Regions from separate parts of the Homo sapiens genome. Here region 1 is linked to region 2. Evidence: fine-mapped expression QTL. Tissue or cell type: whole blood. Region 2 holds a variant in brackets; the other region holds the start of a gene. All regions are shown on one strand. Distances are between the middles of the regions.

The links. PIP is the estimated chance that this variant, and not a neighbour inherited with it, causes the effect.
Region 1: it holds the start of IPCEF1, and the variant in region 2 is fine-mapped to the expression of IPCEF1 in whole blood (INTERVAL, PIP above 0.99).

What each region holds. Positions count from the first base shown.
Region 1 is chr6:154,352,418-154,360,532 of GRCh38, reverse strand. IPCEF1 (interaction protein for cytohesin exchange factors 1) reads left to right here and starts at 3,730. Exons shown (of 12, transcript NM_001130700.2): 1 at 3,730-3,861. It overlaps LOC105378067 (a long non-coding RNA gene), which reads left to right. Exons shown (of 3, transcript XR_007059823.1): 3 at 1-640.
Region 2 is chr6:154,164,194-154,172,308 of GRCh38, reverse strand. IPCEF1 (interaction protein for cytohesin exchange factors 1) reads left to right here. Exons shown (of 12, transcript NM_001130700.2): 11 at 4,196-4,389. It also overlaps a transcript of OPRM1 not described here. Among named protein-coding and RNA genes, the nearest start is that of OPRM1, 130 kb to the right of the region's middle. The variant G/A (reference allele first, on the strand shown) is at 4,028.

The sequences.
Region 1 (8,115 bases), 190 kb before region 2:
CTGAATTAAACCTCTTTAATTTATAAGAGTCAATTAAACCTCTTTCCTTTAGAAATTACCCAGTCTCTGGCAGTTCTTTATGGCAGTATGAAAATGGACTAATACACTGGATGAATGAACACAAAATTCTAGAGTGAAATATAAATCCTTCAGAACTTTGAAGGCTGTGCTCGCTGACCTTCTAACCCTTAATGCTACTTCTGTGAAATCTGGAGCCCTTTGATTCCTTGTTTCTGTGAAAGTGACTTATTTTCTGTGTTTGGGAGATTTTAAGATTTTCTCTTTATTTCCGGAGTTTGGAAATTTTGCAGTGACTTGAAATTCTTCATCCTAGGCACTCGATGAGACTTTTTAATCTAAATATTCTTGGACTTCAGGGGGATCCTTTATGTTATTTCTTTGACTATGTCATCAAATAATATTTCCTGAAAATTTCACTTGAATTTATCACCCAACCTATCAAAATCTTTATTTAACAATTATATTTGCAATATCCAAGGGGTCTTTCTTGTTTTCAGATTATCTATCTTTCTTAGCATCCTGTTCTTTTTAATGGATACAATATCTTCAGGACTGTCTCTAAGGATACTGATTAGAAGCATATCTAGGCCAGGCGTGGTGACTCATGCCTGTAATCCCATCACTTTGGGAGGCCAAGGTGCACAGATCACCTGAGGTCAGGAGTTTGAGACCAGTCTGGCCGGCATGGTGAAACACTGTCTCTACTAAAAATACAAAACATAGCTGGGTGTGGTGGCACATATCTGTAATCCTGGCTACTCAGGAGGCTGAGGCAGGAGAATCACTTGAACCCTGGAGGCGGAGGTTGCAGTGAGCCGAGATAATTAATGCCACTGCACTCCAGCCTGGGTGACAGAGCAAGACTCTGTCTCAAAAAAAAAAAAAAAAAAAAAAGCACATCATCCATCATCCAGCACATGCTAGATGAGGCTCTTATTGCCAGAATGTGGAGTTCTGACTGTGGAGTGCTCATATCCACATACAATGCCTGTATTCTCTGCATGATTTCACTATGTGTAGAGACGAATCCTCGGTATGCTGCCCGGGGTTGGAATTGTGTGTGTTTGCTGTGCAGAGGCTGGGCGGACAGAGAGATTTGAAAGAGGGGTATGGGAGGGGCTGAGTTCTTACAGACTTTGAATTACTCTTCCTGTTTTCAGTCCTGTCACCCTATCACTCATTTAGCTCTCTTAGCTTCTTTTGGCTTGAGTTCCGGTCCTCTCAGGGATTCAGCACCGCACACGGGCAATTTCCTCCAACGCCGTGTTCTCCTAACTAATGAGATATTGTGGTTCCCCTGCCTGCCTCCATCTGTTATTGCTCCTCCATCGGCTTTCAGGCTGCCAGAAATCTGTTGTGCTCTCCCAAGTTCTGATGCTTTTCCTCCTTTTTTGGGTTATTGTGGGTTTATATCTTTTTTTTTCTTTTGAGACGGAATCTCGCTCTGTCACCCAGGCTGGAGTGCAGTGGCGCGATCTCAGGTCACTGCAACCTCCGCCTCCCAGGTTCAAACGATTCTCCTGCCTCAGCCTTCTGAGAAGCTGGGATTACAGGCTCGTGCCACCAGGCGTGGCTAATTTTTTGTATTTTTAGTAGAGACAGGTTTCACCATGTTAGCCAGGATGGTCTCGATCTCCTGACCTCATGATCTGCCAGCCTGGGGCTCCCAAAGTGTTGGGATTACAGGTGTGAGCCACCGTGCCCGGCCCTATAAACTTTTTATACTTTTCTCATTTTAACGGAGTCTTTGGGGAGGGAGGGAGCAAATCTGTGGTCAGCCCGTCATCTTGAACTGACAGTCCGGCCGTTTTGAGGATTATTCTAATTCTACAAATCATCTTTGCTCAAAGAATTTAAGTGGCTCTATTCTGGCCCCATAAAGGTAAATAACATGTCTTTTGAGGATATCTTTGATGATGGCATCTAAATGTCTGGTGAGAAGCCAGGCCATGCTGTTGATACCACTAAATTCCTTTAATATCACCTAGTACCATTTTTTTTTCTACGTAAAGCAGGGAACTAGAAGACAACTCAATATAGGGAGAAGATGAGGCAGCACTTCCAGAAATAGAAGTGTACACAAACAAGAAGCCGCTGAGAGAACCTTCATTTTGTTCCTGCTCAAAATGTACAGCATCTTCTTTCATTTTTTCACTCCTCCACAGATTTAGTTTACATTTTATCTTTGTCTTAGTCATTCAGGCTGTTATATCAAAACACCGTAGCCTGGGTGGCTTACAAACAAAAGACATTTATTTCTCACAGTTCTGGAGGCTGGACATCCAAGATCAAGGCGCCAGCAGATTCATTGTCTGGTGAGGACCTGCTTCCTCGTTCCTAGGTGACTGTCTTCTGGCCATGTCCTCATATGGTGGAGGGGTGGGCAGATCTCCAGGTTCTCTTTAATAAGAAAATTAATACCATTCATGAGGGCACTGTCCTCATGACCTAATCACTCCCCAAAGGTCCACCTCTAAATACAATCACATTGGGGATTAGGTTTCTATATATTCTATATATTCTATATATATATATATATATATATATATATATTTTATATATATATTATATATATATATTTTATATATATATTATATATATATATTTTATATATATATTATATATATATATTTTATATATATATATATTTTATATATATATTTTATATATATATTATATATATTATATATATTTTATATATATATTATATATATTATATATATTTTATATATATAATATATATATTTTATATATTATATATATATAATATATATAATATATATATTATATATATAATATATATATAATATATATATTATATATAATATATATATAATATATATATAATATATATATTATATATATATATTATATATATATATACACATACATATTTATTTATTTATTTATTTTGAGTTGGAGTCTTGCTCTGTCTCCTAGTCTGGAGTTCAGTGGTGCGATCTCGGCTCACTGCAACCTCTGCCTCCCAGGTTCAAGCAATTCTCCTGCCTCAGCCTCCTGAGTGGTTGGGATTACAGGCATCTGCCACCACGCCCAGCTGTATTCATTTCCCTAGAAGGTATAGAGAAACAAGAAGCTGGTGTTGAAAGGGAGATTGGGAGGGCAGGAATTTGTAATGAGATGGAATATCTCTGACTTTCAGCCTGCCATTTTCCTTTTCCAATGTGGGAAAGAAAAGTTTTGTGGTTAGAGACTCTTCTATGTCTACTGCAAAAGATGGCAGGCTAAGACTTATTTTTATCCTAAAATACGTTTTACAAATGTGTCTGTACCCTCTCTTTATTAGAGCATTATGAACGATTAGGAAAGGAGGAAAGAGGGAAATCTGAAAGAAGATTGAACCTAAAGAGGTTGAAGTGGCATTTCACCCAAAAATGCTGAGAATGACTCTGCAGATCATCTCACCCTCCATGCCTGTAAATGAACATCCTTGCCTCCAAAACAGGAAAGCAGAACCATGAACTGTTCCACCAATGTGCTCGGCAAATGAATACACTGGGCAGTGCTTAGTGATCAATGAACTCAGGCAGATGGGGTGTGCTTGCCTTACATGTACTGTGTCCTGGATATGGGCATCAAGGAAGGGTTTCATAACAATGAGAAGGAAGAACGTTAGGATTGAGGAAGTGGAGATGATACTTCCTCTTCTTTCGAAAGAGCTTTACTCTCTGATCAGCTTTGAATGTTAGTTCTGGGTTGACTGAGTTTCCAGAGCTGAGGCTGCTTTAAGTAGAATCCTCAAGCTTGGCCTCAGAGTACTATGAGGCTTCTGAATCCAGGAATAAGACTGCTCTTGGATTTACTCTCTTTGTATTGCATGTAAGTAACGTCACTTCTTGGCTGATGTATGAGAGGTAACTGCTTGACAGATCAAGATGGCAAAGCAATGGATACCCTAGCACTCTCCTTAGAGTAGTGAGGTAGGAAATATGACTTTGGGGATGTAATATTCACTCAGCTCTCTGTAATCTGGGAAGCCAGGTGCTAAAGATTCTTTAATTCTGTGAAAGCTTTGAAAGAGGAGAGAGTTGTGTACTCACTCTGCTTTTATGTTTCTTAAATGGGTGTTGTCTTGATAGGTGTTTAGACTGCAGACCACAGGTTTGATTTAGAAAAGCACAATTCAGCATGTATTTGGGTCCTGAGGAGTTCATTTGGGGAAGCACTCTGGGGCCGCCCTCTTTCGAGAAAGTGTGTTCTTTGCAAGGGAGCTTCCTTTGCATGGAGGCAGCTGGGGGACATTTTACACTTTGATAAAGGTCTCAGGCTTGCCAAAATATCTCTGGTATAAAAATGAAAGCTAGGTGTTGTTGGTTCAGAGTCTTTTAGTAAGGGTGTCTGGGGCACTTGATTTTTCTTTGCTGGGGTATATGTGAAAGTATTTAATTATAGAAGTCAGAATTATAACCCACTGAAGCATCTTTGACTACAGCAGTGGGCTCTATTAGTCTTGAGTGGCCTATGTGTTCCTAGTGCTGTCCTTGATAAAGTCTAATTTCTATCGAGTTATTTATTTTATGTAGAAAATTGAAACCGAGGGCTGGGCACAATGGCTCACACCTGTAATCCCAGTACTTTGGGTGACCACGGCGAGAGGATCACTTGAGGTCAGGAGTTTGAGACCAGCCTGGGGGCAAAATAATGAGACCTCATCTCTACAGGAAGAAAAAAAAAAAGAAAGAAAAGAAAATAGAAAATAGAATGCCGGGTGCGGTGGCTCACGCTTGTAATCCCAGCACTTTGGGAGCCCAAGGCGGGTGGATCATCTGAGGTCAGGAGTTCGAGACCAGCCTGGCCAACATGATGAAACCCCGTCTCTACTAAAAATACAAAAATTAACTGGGCGTGGGAGCATGCACCTGTAATCCCAGCTACCTGGGAAGCTGAGGCAGGAGAATTGCTTGAACCCGGGAAGCGGAGGTTGCAGTGAGCTGAGATTGCGCCACTGCACTTCAGCCTGGGTGACAGAGCAAGAGTTCATCTCAAAAAAAAAAAAGAAAGAAAGAAAGAAAAGAAACAGAAATGGAAAGAACACACATTTCTTTCTGCTCACATCATGCAAGCAAGGAAGAAAAGGGTGTAAGTTTGTGTATGTGTTGATGAACTCATTCTTTAATTTACCTTATAATTTCCTTCCATTCCTCTTTTTATAAATCAAGTGTCTTTTCTGGAGTGGGTCCATGTATGAACTATTTCAGGCAAGCTGTGTTAAGCAAATATACATCATCAGAGTATGGAAATAGGAAGTTCTTTCCTGCGGTAGTTTGCTGTGGCAATAAGAGATAAGAAATTACTTCATCACTATTGCCTGAGACTTTCCTTTTGACTCGTGCATCCTTTTGAACAGCTCACTTCTGCTTTCCATCCAGCTTGGAGGCTCTGCAGTGTGAGCTGATAATTGCAGTACAGGTTAACAATTTGCAAGTAGGTCTAATGTGGCAAATGGTGTGTGTGTGTGTGTGTGTGTGTGTGTGTGTGTGTGTGTGTGTGTGTGAAGAAAAATCCTAAAAAATAAGCTTTTTAGCCTTAAAGAGAATCCTGCAAATGGAGGAGTTACTTGTGCTCCCAAGTGCTCAGAACAGTGCCTGCTCTCAGTAAATATTTGTTGAATGAATGAATAACTGGCATAATTCATAAAATGAATGTGGTAGGAAAGCCATTGCTTTATCTCTGTTACTCAGGCACTTTAAAAAGTGAATGTTAGAAAAGATCAGAGTGGAGGAGGAGAGGAGAATATGAAGGTGTGGAGTAAAGAAAGGGTGTGTAGAACGGGGATCAGAAAAATCCCCAGGTCAGTAAAGTGAAAGGGTTGGCGATACATGGTGGTGGAGGTGGAGGTGGAGATAAAGGGGGTGGTGTTGGAAGTGGTGGTCGTAGGGGAGGTGATGGTGGAAGTGACGGTGGAGATGGTAGAGGTGGTTGTGGAGGCGATGGTGGAGGTGGTAATGGAGATGGTAGAAATGGTGATTGGAGTGGTAGAGGTGATGGTGGAAGTGACGGTAGAGATGGTGGAGGTGGTTGTGGAGGAGATGGTGGAGGTGGTGGTGGAGGAGATGGTGGAGGTGGTGGTGGAGGTGGTGGTGGAGATGGTGGTTGGAGGTGACGGTGGAGGTGACAGATGGTAGAAGTGATGGTAGACATGGTGGAGATGGTTGAGGAAGTGATGGTAGAGGTGATGGTACAGATGGCGGAGATGGTGGTTGGAGGTGATGGTAGTAGAGGTAATGGTGGAGGTAATCATGGGAAGGTCAGTATAATTTAGCCAAGAGAAAACACAGTTGGGGGCTCAGACATATCTGTTCAAAATCTATATCTCTGAACCTACCAGCTCTGTGACCTCCGAACCTATAAAGTGGTGACTATAACATATTGACTTTTTGGGTTGTTGTGTGAGGGTTAAAAATATGATTGCATTAAATGGCAGTTATCGATATCAGTTTTCAAGTTGCCAGAGCCACGCTTAAAAATTTAATCTCTAATTTCTCTTTTTTTCTTTATGCTTTGTGCATTTTCTGAATTTTGTAAAGTGAAAGTGAGTTTTTAAAAGAATCATTAATTTAAAATAAATATGATAAGCCTAGTTATCAGAATGGTTGAACACATGGTGGTATATAAAGAAATGTCATCAAGAAAATGATATTTATGGAAATAGTCTCATGATGTAATGCTAAGTCCAAAAAGGAGGAACATAACTTTTTCAACTATGTAAAAATACTGCAGAGAAGCAAGATTTGGGTGAAATGCATTAAAATGTTAATATATGAGTAGTGGGCTTATAGCTCGTGGTTCTTCTTTCTTTGTACTTTGTACTCTATTTTCTTCCCAGATTTTTCATTAGTGGAACATACCTGAACTATTTTAATAATCTGAAAATAAAACAAACGTTGAAAGAAAGTAAATAGGCCCGGGTGCGGTGGCTCTCATGCCTGTAATCCCAGGACTTTGGGAGGCCAAGGCGGGCGGATCACCTGAGGTCAGGAGTTCCAAACCACTCTGGCCAACATGGCGAAACCCTGTTTCTACCAAAAATACAAAAATTAGCTGGGCATGGTGCGGGCGCACGTAATCCCAGCTACTCAAGAGGCTGAGGCACAAGAACCACTTGAATCCGGGAGGCGCAGTGAGCCGAGATCACGCAGCTGCACTCCAGCCTGGGCAATGAGGGAGACTTCATCTCAAAAAAAAAAAAAAAAAAAAGGAAAAGGAAAAGAAAAGAAATGGACAAAAATGTAACCCTCCTTAAATCTTCCACCAACAGGACGACAAAAGCAATGTTTTAGTGATAGTGTGCTGAAGTTCATGGTTCATTGCAGTCTAAGAAATGACACTTAAAATTTATGTTATTTAGTCTTTGTAGGGAAATCCCCTTTGAGAGTAAGGCTGGTGCAGAATCATGTGTCAACTCTGAAGTGAGAAAAAGGAAACGTGGTCCCACTGGGGCTGGCTGGTCTGATTAATTCCTAGAATGACATGAAAATGGGTTATTTTCTCTGGATGACTTATAACTGCGTCTAAACCTGAGTTTGATGATTTCCTAAAAAATGCAATAGTCAATTTGTCAGTTATTAATTATAAGTTAAATTTAAATCTCCCAATATAATTGTTAATACATTTCTTAGGGAATGTTGCCATATGTTTATCATCTTGGTACTCATAGGGAGAGGTCATAAAAACATTTCTATAGAGTCACAGATTATTTTATAGATTCAAGAATTATCATTCCTGTTGTTAGAATCTTGGCCCTGCCGTCTCACAGGGCCAGCAGGTCACCATGGAGTCCCTTATCAGGGACGTAACCAAAATAAAATATTTTGGCTTGTAGGCATTGAAAAGAATCTTCTGTCTTTGTCTTAGAATCAATCTTTGTCTTAGAAAGGAGAGATAGTCGGCAGACAAAAAGGCAAAGGGCTGAACAAATGTGAGCAAAGACAGGTCTCCCAGACTGACACAGGGATTGACATAGAAGCAGCTGAAAGGTGAAAAGTGAGCCAGCTTAAACTCAGCCCAAAGTTACTAGAATGTGGATGAGTCTTTCAAAAGAAGTCTGAATAAAAAAATGACCAGATCGTCAAG
Region 2 (8,115 bases):
ATGGGCTGCACCCACTGTCCAACCAGTCCCAATGAGATGAACCAGGTACTTCAGTTGGGAATGCAGAAATCACCTGTCTTCTGCATTGATTTCACTGGGAGTTGTAGACTGGAGCTGTTCCTATTTGGCTATCTTGGAAGCAATGATAATAATTTTTACTGTGACATAATTACAAACAAAATGTTTTAGTCAAAAATATTTTTTTCTTTTAGTGGCTCAATTGGTAAGTTGTTTTCTATCACAATCTTTAGTAGCACAATGTAGCTACTTGGTGAACACAGAGAAATGTAAAGAAACCATTCTATTTATCTTTGTCATACTCTTGTTTGGTTTGCTTGTTGATGTTTGTTAAACATATATTCCTTAATTCAAAAATACTGTGGTATTGAAAGCTATGTGTTTATGCCTTAATCTAAGTAGAATTCTACCTTGTTAGCTGTATTTTTTTAAAAAGTAAAAGGACATGTAAAATTACTGTGTCTTAAAACTGAAAACTCTAAGTCTTCAATCCTAATGCCCCCCTTCAGGAGTCAGATTTCTTTCCACTTAACTTCTTTAAGACTTTCCAGTGTCTCCAGCTTGACCCCATGACTGTGGCCATGCTTAGTATTTCTGCTATGTAGCATCAGCTCTCATGACAATCTCATAAATGACTACTTTTTATAGTTTTATTGAGATATATTTCACATACCATAACATTCACACATGAAAGTGTACAGTTCATTGGTTTTTAGTATATTTGGAATTGTGCAGCTGTCATCACAATCTAATTTTGGAACATTTCAGCATCACAAAAAGAAATCCTTACACATTAGCTGCCATTCTCCACTCCTGCTTGTCCCCTCCCAGACCCCAGGCAATTATTATTCTGGTTTCTGTCTCTGTGGGTTCATCTAATCTGGACATTTCATATAAATGGAATCACGCAATATGTGGTTGTTTGTGACTGGCTTCTTTTACTTAGCAAAATGTTTTCAAGGTTCACCCATGTTGAAGTATTGTGGACAACTGAGTATTTATTTTAATTATTGAATACTATTCTGTCACATGCAAATGCCACATTTTGTTTATCCTTTCATCAGCTGATGAACATTTAGGATCTTCCCAAGTTGAGTCTGTTATGAATAATGCTGCCGTGAACATTCATGTACAATTTTTGTGTGAATATATGTTTTCAATTCTCTTGGGTATTTATGTAGGAGTGTAATTGCTGGGGCACATGCTAAACTCCATGAGAAATGGACAAACTATTTTCTAAAGTGGCAACTCAATTAGCTGAGCATGGTGGCATGCACCTGTAGTCCCAGCTACTTGAGAGGCTGAGGCAGGAGAATCTAGTGAGTCCAGGAGTTCAAGGCTGCAATGAGCTATGATCATGCCACTGCACTCCAGCCCAGGTGATAGACCAAGACCCTGTCTTTAAAAAATAAACAATAAAATAAAAGTAGCAGCTCTGTTTTACATTCCCACTAACAATGTATGAGGGTTCCAATTTATCCACATCCTCATCCACACTTACTACTGTCTGTCTTTTTAATTGTAGCCACCCTGGGTGTGAAGGGACATCTCATGATGGTTTTGGCTTGCATTTCCCTCATGACTGATGATACTGAGCATCTTTTCATGTGCTTATTGACAAAAGCCCACTTTTGATGTCTGCACACGGTGTGAGCCAAAAGTCTAATTGTCTTCAGATGTAGTTTTGAGTATTTTCTTCCCTTTTGTGAGACGGTTTGGTAGAGAAAAAGGAGGTTGTGCTGATGAACATTTTAAGTCAGCTATGAAGTGAGTGCATCATCTTTGCTTTCTGTTTTATGAAAGAGTATTGGTGACTTTCTGGGATGGATAGGGGAAACTAATTCTTGCATAAAGGTTTCTAATCGTAGAGGAGTAAACTCTAAGGCATGTGAAGTTTGCTTGGTTTTGATGCTCCTAGGTCACCATTATATGCTTTTCTCCACCCTATGGAGAGGCTGTTTTTCTAGTTCCTCTAATGCCATACTTTCTATAGAGTCCTCTTTCAAGCTGGTTCTTTGGACAGGAAGTGAAACATATAAACATTAAGGAGTATGTGGTGGAAAAAGAAATCTCATTGTATTTCTTTCCCAAGCTTTCTTCCAAGGAATAAAGGAAAAATAGACTAACGTTCTTAGTGAGAAATTAAAGCAACATCAAAGGATGAAGATTTTCTTTGAGTAACCTCTGTATCATTTGAGGCCCTTCCAGGTGCATATGATTGGAAACCAAAGCCAGGGTAGCTTAACATGGGTAACATATTAGCTCCCACAGGCTGAGAGGGCTCCAACGGTATCATCAAGATCTGTGTCTCAGAATGGGTTGGCTTCCATATCATTATTCTTGGGATACTTCCTGGAAACTTCCAGCTCACACTATCACAACATTCAGCTTAAGAAAAAAGAGAGATTACTTATCTGATACTCCAAAGTCTTGGAACTGAGTCTCCTTGGCCCCAAATGGCCTGACCAGAGGCACATGTTTATCTCTGAATCAGTGACTGTGGCCAGAATGGTGGAACTGCCATTGGCCTCGTCTAGTCCACATGGTCCCCAGTAGATCCTGTGGTGGAGTGGCTTCACTGCAATCATGTGGGCCGAGGCTGGCAAAGTGTGGTTAGGAAGGGAGATGGAGTCTGTGTGGCAAGATGAGGAATGATCACTTTCTACTCAAAACCACAGACCACAGACAGGTTTCTTCTCTCCAAGGGTAGTTCTGGGAAGGACATTAAGCAATCATCTAGGGCAGTAGTTCTCAAACTTTAGCATGTGTATAATTTGCTAGGGCTTATTTGTCCCACACTGTGTTTTAGAAGCAGATATTTGTCGACTTGCATGGGTTTAAAGATGGAGATGAATTTTGTCTCAGGATGAATCACTCCCCCACTGAGTTTCAGCAATACCTGGTTTAGATGATATTTTGTGTGTGTGTGTGTGACAGAGTCTCACTCTGTAGCCCAGGCTGGAGTGCAGTGGTGTGATCTCAGCTCACTGCAACCTCCACCTCCCAGGCTCAAGTGATTCTCGTGTCTCAGTCTCCTGAGTAGCTGGGATGACAGGCACGCACCACCACACCCAGCTAATTTTTTGTATTTTAGTAGACAACGGGTTTTACCATGTTGTCAAGTGTGGTCTCAAACTCCTGAGCTCAGGCGATCCTCCTGCCTTGGCCTCCCAAAGTGTTGGGATTACAGGCGTGAGCCACCACACCCAGCCTGGATGATATTTGGGTGAGCTTTTGGTCTTAGAGTTGATGGTGGAATGGGTTAAGACTTTTGGAGTTGTTGGGATGAGGTGAATATATTGCACGTGAGAAACACATGAATTTAGGAGGCCGGAGGGTGGACTATGTATGGGTTGAATTGTGTCCCTCTAAAATTCATATGTTGGGCTGGGCGTGGTGGCTCACACCTGTAATCCCAGCACTTTGGGAGGCCAAGGTGGGCGGATCACCCAAAGTCAGGAGTTCAAGACCAGCCTGGGCAACATGGTGAAACCCTGTCTGTACTAAAAATATAAAAATGAGCCGGGCATGGTGGCAGGTGCCTGTAATCCCAGCTACTTGGGAGGCTGAGACAGGAGAATCACTTGAACCTGGGAGGTGTAGGTTTCAGTGAGCCAAGATTGTGCCATTTCACTTTAGCCTGGGCAACAGCAGTAAAACTCCGTCTCAAAAAAAATAATAATAAAATTAATTAATTAATTAATAAAATTCGTATGTTGACGTCCTAACCCCTAATACCTCAGAATGTGACCTTATTGGGAAATGGGGTTGTTGCAGATTTAACTAGTTAAGATGAGTTAATAGGGCAGGTTTCTAATCCAACATGACTGATACCCTCATAAATAGGGGGAGTTTGGACACAGAGACATGCATGCAGGGAACACCCCATGTGAATATTGGAGTTATACTGCCACAAACCAAAAAACCACTTGAAGCCAGGAGAGAGGCTTGGAATAACTCCTTCCCTGGTGCCTTCACAGGGAACGTGGCTCTGCAGTAACAAAGTATC[G/A]CAAACTGGGTGGCTTAGACAGCAAACATTTATTGTCTTTCAGTTCCGGAGAGAAGTCTGAGATGAGGGTGCCAGTGGGGCCGTGCCTTGGGACCACAGTATTGAATGTTCTCTCCTTGATTTTTCACTGGGTTTATTGTTACTGCTTTCTTTTTTTTTTTCAAATAGAAGAGACAAAAGTGTCTGAAGATGATGAAATGGAGAAGCTGTACAAATCATTAGAGCAAGCTAGTCTATCTCCTCTTGGGGACCGACGACCTTCGACTAAAAAGGAGTTGAGAAAATCCTTTGTTAAGCGGTGTAAAAATCCATCTATAAACGAGAAACTCCACAAAATCCGAACATTGAATAGCACATTAAAGGTAACAAAATTTCAAATTGTGGATGAACTCTATGGATGTGGGGCAAGGAACGGCTGGTTCTGCAGAGAGATTCTTGCTAATCACAGCATGTTTGTGTGGTTGCAGGGAAGGGCTGTAAAAGTAAATATAACCTTTATAGGGCAAGATGATCTTGACGTTCTTAAAGCACTAGGACATTCACACAGTAGCGCCCAAGGCAGTTTTTCACAATAGGCCTTGATGTTTGCATTCACTCTGATATAAAATTTCAAATTTTAAGCTTCTGGACAGCAAGGACCATGCATAATTTGTTTTTTAACCCTTATACCTAGCACAGTACCTGGTTCAATAAATGTTGATGAGAGACAGAGATCATCAACTGGTGAGAATAAACAGTCGTATAAATAAGATCTCGAATTTTCATCTGATTCATACAAGGGTACCAGTCTTCAGGACTGCATCCAGAAGGAAATGTCTTGATTTCAGCTGCAGCAAAGATGTAGTGATTGTCAGCTGTGGGCACTGCAGCCAAGGAGCACCATGAGAGCCCGACAGTGGGAAGTACACACTCTGTGGTAATAGACCAGCAGATGTTTTCACAATGGGAATAAGGGAAAGTGTACAGGAAGTACTGAAGCTATTTTCAGGCCCTCCCTGAGCTGAAATGGTTCTTCATAACAAAAGTGTCCTGCTTTCACATTTAGATTATAACATGAACAGGTGGAGGCCAGGATACTTTGTAAAATGCTCCTGATTTAGCAGACGATTTATCTGAAAAGCTTTGATAGATTCTGTAAGTGAATTTTGTTTTGTCTGTGGCCTTTGGCATTAAGAACTTAAGTCATTTTCCAGGAAGAAATGTCAGCAATTGAAAGGACAAGGCTACAAAGGCAGGCTGAGTGGCTCTTAGGCGTCCCAGTTAGTCAGTAGAACATCTGAACACCCTAAAAGGCTACAAAAATGAGGCCAGAATGGAAAAAGAAAGTAAATTTTAATTATACAAAGATAATACAAATGCAGAGAAATTCACTCTTATTTAATATTAAAATTTTTATCGATAATAAAAGATATCACTGGCCGCCATTTCACAGTATGTACGAAGCTGATGAATATATTTGATTATTCAATGTAATATGTCATAGCGTGTTGGGATTTTACTGTCTTCTTTGTCTGTGATAGCTGATATGAGTGAGTAAAGTTTTCATTGAGCAAGTATTTCCTGACTCTTACTATGTACCAGCCACTATTCTAGGTGACTGGGACCATTGAATGGACTCTACCGGTGTAGAAACAGAGGAAAACAAATACATGATTAAAATGAAGTGCAAAAATACTCTGGTTGAGATGTGCTCAGGGTGCTTTGGTGGTCCAAGGGGGACAGTGGATTACTGGAGGCATTAGGAACACTGTCACGAAATCCGTGAGTCAGGAAGAAATGAATACCAAGGGAAGGACATTCAAGGAAATGGAATGTCTGTCAACGGATAATAAGCTGTAGTTCCACGTTGGGAGAAGCAGGAAGTAGAGGCCGCGGAGAGCATGTGCAGTTTGAGTCATTAGTAGAAGGAGAAAGGCTGTGGCCTCAGGCCTTCCACAGAGCAGCAGACTCAGGATTCTAGATCTTTACGGCACCATGCCCTCACCTGGCCACTGGGGGGCCAACTTTGTGAAAAGAATTAGTGTTACCATTCCCTATGGGTCTCTGTGACCTCGTCATTGGTGAATTCAGCAGCTTTTGCTTTTCTGTCAGTGTATCGGTTATCCAGTGCTAGGTAACAAATTATCCCAAAGCTTAGCAACTCCAAACAATCAGCATTTATTATTTCAAAGTGTCTGTGGCCAGGAATCTGGGTGTGGCTTGCTCAAATGCCTCTGCCCCCAGGTCTCTCACAAGGCTGTGATCAAGCTGTCAGCTGGGGCTGCATTCATTCCTCCATGGAGAGGGATCAGTTTCTAAACTCCTGCATGTTAATTATTGGCAGGATTCAGGTCCTTTCAGGTTGCTGGACTGAGGGTCTCAGTTGCCCTCTGGCTGTTGGCCAGAGGCTCCCCTCAGTTCCTTGCCACATGGGCTTCTCCACAGGGCAGGTCACAACTTGGAAACTGGCTTCTTTCAGAGCAAGCAACACAGTGAGAGTGAGTGAGTGAGATGGGTTATAACCCAGTGGCAGCAATGACATCACATTACTTTTGCAGTATTCTATTCAGTAGAAGCAAGTCATTGGGTCATCTCATTTTCAGGGAGGAGATTACACAAGGCCTTGAATACCAGGAAGCAGAGAAGATTGGGGGCCCGCTCAGGGCTGCCTGCCCCACCCAGCTAGGGAACTGCTCTTTCTGGACATTTGTGAGAAGGAGCCCTTTCCATAGATCCCTCGTGCAGTGCTTGGGGCTGATGAAATAGAACAGGACCCATGTCATGCAGTCCTATTAATCTCAGGAGGTAGGAGGACATGCTGATGTGGAAATTGGTCTTGCTGAAGAAGCTGAACAAAAGCAAAGTGCATCAACCTATTCAAAGGAGAGAGAGAACTTGGTACATGTGTGCATGTTCATGTTGGAAGGGTATAATAATTATTTCTAATTGTTTTTAAAATTCAAAGCAGTCAAGAGAGTGGTTGTCTTTGAGGAAGAGGAGAGGATGGGACTGAGAGGGGATGTGAATGGAGCTTCTGAGTGCTGGGTGCGGGTCCTTCTGTGACCCTGGTAGTAGTGGTATGGAAGTGTTTATTTTGTGATAATTCTTTAAGCACAATTTTTCTATTTGTGCACTTTTCTCTGAGTATGATATATTGCACAGAGAATATATCATACACAGAGGAAATGTTTATGTTTTAAAAGCTCCAAAGTAGGAGTGTAGACAAGCAAAGACAACAGAGTTTCATGCAGAAACAAGGAAACTGTTTTAACAATAATGTTTATATTTGCCGCAGGTGCATTCCGTAAATAAGAAAAATCCCTGCACTGGGATAGTACTGGAATGAATGCACTTCAGGGAAATTCTTCTAGGAAGTTGAGCAAACTTCCAAGTTGAACTTGAGCAAAAGTTGATCGTATTATGTTGTACACTAAATACAGATATTTAGGAATTTCTAACAGCTCATCATTCACTGACTTTTGGCTAAGTCTGCTTTTATTTTAAAATAAGTTATTAATGGAATGATTAATGGGTCCAACTGAAACTCTCTCTGAGTTACTCTGACCTATGTCACAAGAGCGGTGAACCCTTTCTTCCCGTAGCTACTCTGGTGGAACACATTTCCAATGCTTAGGTCTTGAGTCGAGCCACACACTGACTATTTGGAGTAAAAACTGAAAGTACAGCATTCTCTCTTTCATGGTATTTTTGGAATCCCTGCCAAACCTTGCTTGCCTGCCAGAAAGCAGAGCGGATGTTGTGAAAGTAGTTCAAAGCCCTCCAAAAGCCTCATGCGCCATCCAGGAGAAGCTGGGCTGCTGGATGAGGCCCAGCCCCAGGATGCCTGGTGTAGGAAGGAGCTTGGAAGGTTCTGTTGTTTCATTAATTTCCTTCTTCTGTATTATTGTCTACATTTTTTTCTTTCATCCATAGAAGAACTAACACAGATTTGAGCCAAATGGTAAAAAATTTGAACTACTTAGAGCCAAAAGCCATATGAGAAGTGTCAGCTTAATGCCCAAAGTTGAAGAGACCCTGTTCTAAAAATTTTATTAGCTATAAAGAGGGGTTAATTCATGTATGCAAAGTCAGTTTCCCCAATTTTTATT